Homo sapiens: one gene and its partner. The protein of the gene in region 2 interacts with the protein of the main gene of each other region in a biochemical or structural test. Each region holds a gene or a part of one and is shown on either strand. Other genes may lie near its edges.

Region 1 (3,753 bases), on a different chromosome or scaffold from region 2:
TTAATATTTCTGTCTTAATGGCACTATTTTGCTGGCATTAAGCATACAAACGAGAAAATAGCCTCAATCCTTCCAAATCATAAAGCTATTCTAAAATATGCTGCAAAAAAGTCACCTAGAGGACAACTGTCTTATTTACCTTTATAAAATTAATTTCCTATCAGAATCATGTGAGAAGTTTACTCCTCCCATTTTGGGGAGTTGGTTTGGAAGGGGGAGTTTAGCTTTTAATTTCTATCAACCCCTGACCTCTGTGAACTTCAAACATGCTCCCAGCCTCAGCAGCCAAAGTGAAAAGCCCAAGCAATATGTTTTCTCCCAGACACTTAAACTCGGCTCAGTTTGATTCTGGCAGCCCACTCACTTGCCTGTCTTTCCCACCCCACCCCACCCCCCCGCCCCAGCTTATGGAGCTGGGAAGGATGCTGAGCTGCATTATAGGAATTCTGCTTCCACTAAATCAAAAACCCGCCAACCTTCTGAGTCTAAATATTTCCAGCTCTGGCTCTAGGCTCCTTTTCTCCAAAGTTGTGACTTTATTGCCTTCAACATAATTGCTTCACATAGAGTATATATTCTAGAAGCAAAAACCAGCTCCAAATACAAAACACTACAATACAGAAATAGCCATGCCAGTGATTTGGTGAAAATAGGCTGAAAAAGGAACAGCAAATGACTCCAGGAGACACCACTTGATAGAAATGGGAAGCTCAAGGAAGAATGATAATGTGGTTTGATCATCAAGATATGTGGAGTTTAAAAAGAAGAAGCTTAACGCAAGAGGATATGAAGAGACGCTTAAGTATAAAACTAAAATCAAGAAATAACCTTAGAACAAAGACAGTTTAGGAGGATGACTTAGGACCAGTGAGTACAAAGAAAGAACTTATAGAGAACTTAATTCATACTAGTCCTGTGAGTCAGAAAAGAGAAAAAGAAACCTGCAAATTATTACTAATAACCTATGCACCAAATATGAGGAACTATGGCTCAGACAGGACAAATGACCTTTTTCTGTGTCATGCAACTTGTGAGAGGGATTTCATCCTGGGTCTTTCAGACTTGGGAACCCATCTTCTTGCCACTAAATCACTCTGCCTGTCAGAAACAGAAAAGCAGCCACCAAAGCAGGATAATAGAAGGGTTCAGCCAGGGCCCACATCCCTGCTCTCTGCTCTCTGATTTACTGCGTTCTACAAGTTAATGAACCTCTTTGTACCACAGCTGCTTCCTCTATAAAATAATACCTATATCATAAAATGTTGGGAGCACAAACAGGTGTATAAAACACTTCAAATAGGCCAGGAGCAGTGGCTCACACTGTAATCCCAGCACTTTGGGAGCCACAGGCGTGTGGATCACCTGAGGTCAGGAGTTCGAGACCAGCCTGCCCAACATAGTGAAACCTCGTCTCTATTAAAAGTACAATAATTAGCTAGGTGTGTAATCCCAGCTACTTGGGAGACTGAGGCAGAAGAATCGCTTGAACCCAGGAGGCGGAGGTTGCAGTGAGCTGAGATCATGCCATTGCATTCCAGCTGGGGCAACAAGAGCGAAACTCAGTCTCAAAAAAATAATAATAATAAAAATAAAACACTTCAAATAGTGCCTGAGATATAGTAAAAGTTTTGTAAGTGCCAGATAGTGGTGTAATTATCATTATATTAGGTATAAGTCAGTGAAAGCCAGAAAGAATAGATTTGTTTGAGACAGGTTCTCACTCTCTTACCCAGGCTGGAATACAGTGGTGCAGTCATGGCTCACTGCAGCCTCAAACTCCTGGGCTCACATGATCCTCCTGCCTCAGCCTCCCTACAGGCACCTGCCACCACACCCAGCTGATTTTGTTTATTTTATTTATTTGTCTTTAGAAACTATGTTGCTCAGGCTGGTCTCAAACTCCTGGTTTCAAATGATCCTCCCACATCATGGCATGAGCCACCATGCCCAGTCCTGATTTCTGTTTATCAGCAACTTCCAGCACTAATTTTCACATTTTAACATACACATGAATCACCTGGGGATCTTGTTAAACACACAGATTCCGATTCAGTGGATCAAAGGTGGGACCTGGGATTCTGCCTTTCCAACAAGCCCCAGCTGAGCTAATGACGCTGGTCTACAGACCACATTCTGAGTAGCAAGGACTTAGCCGAAAGAAATAGCTTTGGTCTTGAACCAGAACTTAAGGAAATGGGGGAAGAGTGGAGCAGAGCAGGAATGAGAAAAGTCCAGAGAAACCAGGGACAAGCCAAATTTAGTAACATGAGACCTATGACTGCTGTGCTGAACAGTGCCCTCTGATTTCACTAGGGGGAAAGCCCCAGTGAAAGTGGTGCCATAATCTAAACAGATTACTGAGCTCTTGAAAAATAAAAACAATGAGAAAGGGATAATAAAGAAGTACAGACCGCGGGCGGTGGCTCACGCCTGTAATCCCAGCACTTTGGGAGCCCGAGGCAGGCGGATCACAAGGTCAAGAGATGGATACCATCCTGGCCAACATGGTGAAAACCCATCTCTACTAAAAATACAAAAATTAGCTGCGCGTGGTGGCACACGCCTGTAGTGCCAGCTCCTCGGGAGGCTGAGGCAGGAGAATCACTTGAACCCAGGAGGCAGAGGTTGCAGTGAGCCGAGATCGCATCACTGCACTCCAGCCTGGTGACAGAGCGAGACTCCGTCTCAAAAAAAAAAAAAAAAAAGAAGTACAACAGAAAAGCCCAGGAGAATGATATTTGTAGGACAAGCCACCTCTCTCAGTACTTAGTATTAAATGTTTTGAAACAACAGTGAAATCAGCTGGAGAACCTTCTTTTGGAAGCTGTCCTAGCCTTTGCTTTATTACACAGGTCTTAGCGCTGGCCTCTGATATTGTCATTCAGAGTTCAAAGAAAAATGTAGGTTTTGTGAGGTTTTGGTGTAGTTTTTTTTTGCTTGTTTGTTTGTTTGAGACAGGGTCTCACTCTGTTGCACAGGCTGGAGTGCAGTGGCATGAGCACAGCTCATTACAGCCCAGACTCAGGTGATCCTCCCATCTCGACCTCCCCAAGTAACTGGGACCACAGGTGCAAACCACCACACCTGGCTAATTTTTGTTTTTTGTTTTTTGTTTTTTTAAATGGGGTCTCGCTTTCTTGCCCAGGCTGGAGTACAGGGGCGTGATCCCAGCTCACTGCAACCTCTGCTGCCCAGGTTCAAGCGATTCTCTGACCTCAGCCTCCCAAGTAGCTGGGATTACAGGCATGCGACACCACACCCAGCTAATTTTTATATTTTTTAAGTAGGGATGGTGTTTCACCAAGTTTGCCAGGCTGGTCTCAAAATCCTGACCTCAAGTGATCTGCCCACTTTGGCCTCCCAAAGTACTGGGATTACAGGCGTGAGTCACGGCACCTGGCCTAATTTTTATTTTTTGTAGAGACAGGGTTTCACCGTGTTCCCCAGGCTGGTCTCGAACTCTCAGGCTCAAGCAATCCTCCCACCTCAGCCTCCCAAAGTGCTAGGATTACAGGGCTGAGCCAACATGCCCAGCCGAAAAATGTGTTTTAAAATACCTAAAATATGGCCAGGCGTGGTGGCTCATGCCTGTAATCCCAGTACTGTGGGAGGCCGAGGTGGGTGGATCACTTGAGGTCAGGAGTTCGAGACCAGCCTGGCCAACATGGTGAAACCCTGTCTCTACTAAAAATACAACAATTAACCAAGCGTGGTGGCGGGTGCCTGTAATCCCAGCTACTCGGGAGGCTGAGG
Region 2 (3,753 bases):
CATGGCGCAGCCCTCTCTCTAATAAAAATACAAAAATTAGCCGGGCGTGCTGGCTTGTGCCTGTAGTCCTAGCTACTTTGGGGAGCTGAGGCAGGAGGATCACCTGAGCCTTGGGAGGTGGAGGCTGCAGTGAGCCATGATTGGGCCACTGTACTCCAGCCTGGGCGAAAGAGTGAGACCCTGTCTCAAACAAAACAAAGAAACAAAAATCTGAATTGTAGACTCTTTGTAGATAAGAACATATTTTTTAAAAAAGTTAAGACTAGGGCCAAGTGCGGTGGCTTTCACCTGTAATCCCAGCACTTTGGGAGGCTGAGGTGGGCGGATCACCTGAGGTCAGGAGTTCAAGACCAGCCTGGCTAACATGGTGAAACCCCATCTCTACTAAAAATACAAAAATTAGCTGGGTGTGGCGGTACACCCCTGTAGTCCCAGCTACTTGGGAGGCTGAGGCAGGAGAACCACTTGAGCCCATGAGGCGGAGGTTGCCGTGAGCTGAGAACGCAACATTCAACTCCAGCCTGGGCCACAGAGTGAGACTCCACCTCAAAAACAAATAAAAAGTTAAGACTAAAACAGTTTATAGTGATTAGGAGTTCAGCTGTCTAGTTTTGTTTTTGTTTTGAGATGGAGTTTCACTCTTGTTGCCCAGGCTGGAGTGCAATGGTGCGATCTCGGCTCACCTCAACCTCTGCCTCCCAGGTTCAAGCAGTTTCCTGCCTCAGCCTCCCGAGTAGCTGGGATTACAGGCATGCGCCACCACGCCCGGCTAATTTTGTATTTTCAGTGGAGACGGGGTTTCTCCATGTTGGTCAGGCTGGTCTCAAACTCCCGACCTCAGGTGAAAAAGTGCTGGGACCTCAGGTGAAAAAGTGAGTCACTGCACCTGGCCCAGCTGTCTCGTTTTTAGAAATAGATTAAGACTCAAAAAAAATATTGCCCACCGTAATATATCTGATTATTAGCAAAGCTTGGACTAGAGTCTAGGTTCTAGTCTAGTGGCCCTTGTACTATACCTGTAATTTTATTGCTTTCTAGTGCATTGGATGATTCCAACTAGGCTGACAAAGTAATAATATCTAAAGGTTAGCCAGGACCATTTCAATAGTTAAGAATTATTATTTTTTTCTTTGGTTTTTATTTTATTTTGTCTTCCTTTTTTTTTTCATTTTCAGGAAGTGAGCAGTTTCTCAAAATTATTATAATTAATGGACCAGCTAATTTGTATAGTGCTTAAAATATTTTAGTAACATAAATTTTACTAAATAAATTTACTAATTTAGTAAATAAATGTTCTCCTTTTATTTCATTGTAAACATTAATTTCTTTAGTAAATCCTGTATTTATATTGTAAATGTTTAGCGATAAAATAATGATATTTCACTGTTTTTGTTTGGTCTAATATTTAAGTCTGGTAGGTAGTATTAGCAGAGAGCAAAACCTACAGTTTATGAAATAAACATTCATTGAGCACTTAATGTGTTCCAGGCATTCATTGTAGTATGTGGTAGGATTCCAAGGATAAATATGGCAAAACAAATGCCTTTCTTCTGTTTTTTTTTTTTTTTTTTTTTTTTTTGAGACGACGGAGTCTGGCTCTGTTGCCCAGGCTGGAGTGCAGTAGCGCGATCTTGGCTCACTGCAGGCACTGCCTCCCGGCTTCACGCCATTCTCCTGCCTCAGCCTCTCAAGTAGCTGGGACTACAGGCACCCGCCACCACACCCGGCTTAGAGTGTGTGTGTGTGTGTGTGTGTGTGTGTGTGTGTGTGTGTGTGTGTTTTAGTAAAGACAGGGTGTCACCGTGTGTGTGTGTGTTTTAGTAAAGACAGGGTTTCACCATGTTAGCCAGGATGGTCGCATTCTCGTGTGTGTGTGTGTGTGTGTGTGTGTGTGTGTGTGTGTGTGTGTGTGTGTTTTAGTAAAGACAGGGTTTCACCGTGTGTGTGTGTGTGTGTGTTTTAGTAAAGACAGGGTTTCACCATGTTAGCCAGGATGGTCGCATTCTCCTGACCTCGTGATCTGCCTGCGTTGGCCTCCTAAAGTGCTGGGATTACAGGCGCGAGCCATCACACCAGGCCGCCTTTCTTCTTTTTTTTTTTTTTTTGCTTTTTTATGTTCGTCTGTTTTTATTTTGCTTTTGTGTGTTTGTTTGTTTTTCCATTGTTCTTTTGAGGCTGGGAGATTATCATGAGCTGTCAATTCTCAAGCTTTATCTCTGTGAGATAATCTGGTAATAGTTTTATAAAATGTAACCTGTTAGCACTATTAAAGGACATTGTGTGAGTAGATATGAAGAGACAAACAGTAGTGATAAGATAAAAAATACTTTAGAATTTAACAAATACTGTTTCTGTATCTTAGAGGTCATGTGCTACAGTGTTTGGAAAGAGCCCTACGTTGGGTACCACAGTACAGGTTATTGACTTTGTTTCCAATTAGCTGTGGGATTGTGCATGTCAATGACCCCATCTTTCTTTACATGTTCACATTTTTGATATGTTATTTTAGGTGTTGAATTCAAAACATAAAAAGGGTATTTTAAGGCCGGGCGTGGTGGCTCACGCCTGTAATCCCAGCACTTTGGGAGACTGAGGCGGGCGGATCACGAGGTCAGGAGATCTAGACCATCCTGGCACCCCTCTCTGCTAAAAAAAAAAAAAAATACAAAAAATTAGCTGGGCGTGGTGGCAGGCGCCTGTAGTCCCAGCTACTTGGGAGGCTGAGGCAGGAGAATGGTGTGAACCCGGGAGGCGGACCTTGCAGTGAGCCGAGATTGCGCCACTGCACTCCAGCCTGAGCTACAGAGCGAGACTCCGACTCAAAAAAAATAAAAGGGTATTTTGAATATTTTATTTTATTTATTTGTTTTTGAGACATTGTCTTGCTGTGTCACCCAGGCTGGAGTTCAGTGCATGATCCCAGCTCACTGCAACCTCCACCTCCTGGGTTCAAGTAATTCTGGTGACTCAGCCTCCCAAGTAGCTGGGATTACAGGCGTGTGCTACCACACCTGGCTAATTTTTTTTTTTTTGGTATCTCTTTTTTTCCCCTCGGAGACAGAGTCTTGCTCTGTCGCCCAGAGCTGGAGTGCAATGGCTGCGATCTCTGTTCACTGCAGACTCCGCCTCCTGGGTTCAGGCAATTCTCCTGCCTCAGCCTCCCGAGTAGCTGGGATTACAGGCGCACGCCACCACAACTGGCTAATTTTTGTATTTTTAGTAGAGACGGGGTTTCACCATGTTAACCAGGTTGGCCTCGAACTCCTGACCTCGTGATCCACCCACCTCAGCCTCCCAAAGTGCTGGGATTACAGGTGTGAGCCACCACACCCAGCCTTTTTTGTATTTTAAGTAGAGACAGGATTTCACCATGTTGCCCAGGCTGGTCTTGAACTCCTGACCTCATGTGATCTGCCCGCCTTGGCCTCCCAAAGTGCCAGGATTACAGGCATGAGCCACTGTGCCGGCCTTTGAGTATTTTAAGTTATAAAAGAAATATGTGTTTCTATATATATTATATAATATATATTATACATGATATATAATATATATGATATAAATTATATTATATACAATATATTATATATGATTAATATATAATATATGATATATCATATATAATATCAAAATATATAATATGTATATAATAATGTATGATATATATAATATAGTATATAATATATTACATGTATAATATATTATATATAATATATAATACAATATATGTAAAATATATATAATATATAACACAAT

What was found.
Region 1: the proteins of XIAP (region 2) and HTRA4 form a complex in vitro, tested with the Homo sapiens proteins (2 studies listed by BioGRID and IntAct, with this or other methods).

The regions. Positions count from the first base shown.
Region 1 is NC_000008.11:38,984,114-38,987,866, reverse strand, and holds part of HTRA4 (serine protease HTRA4 precursor), read right to left. Parts: intron 1-3,753. UniProt on the Homo sapiens protein: Serine protease.
Region 2 is NC_000023.11:123,862,903-123,866,655, forward strand, and holds part of XIAP (E3 ubiquitin-protein ligase XIAP), read left to right. Parts: intron 1-3,753.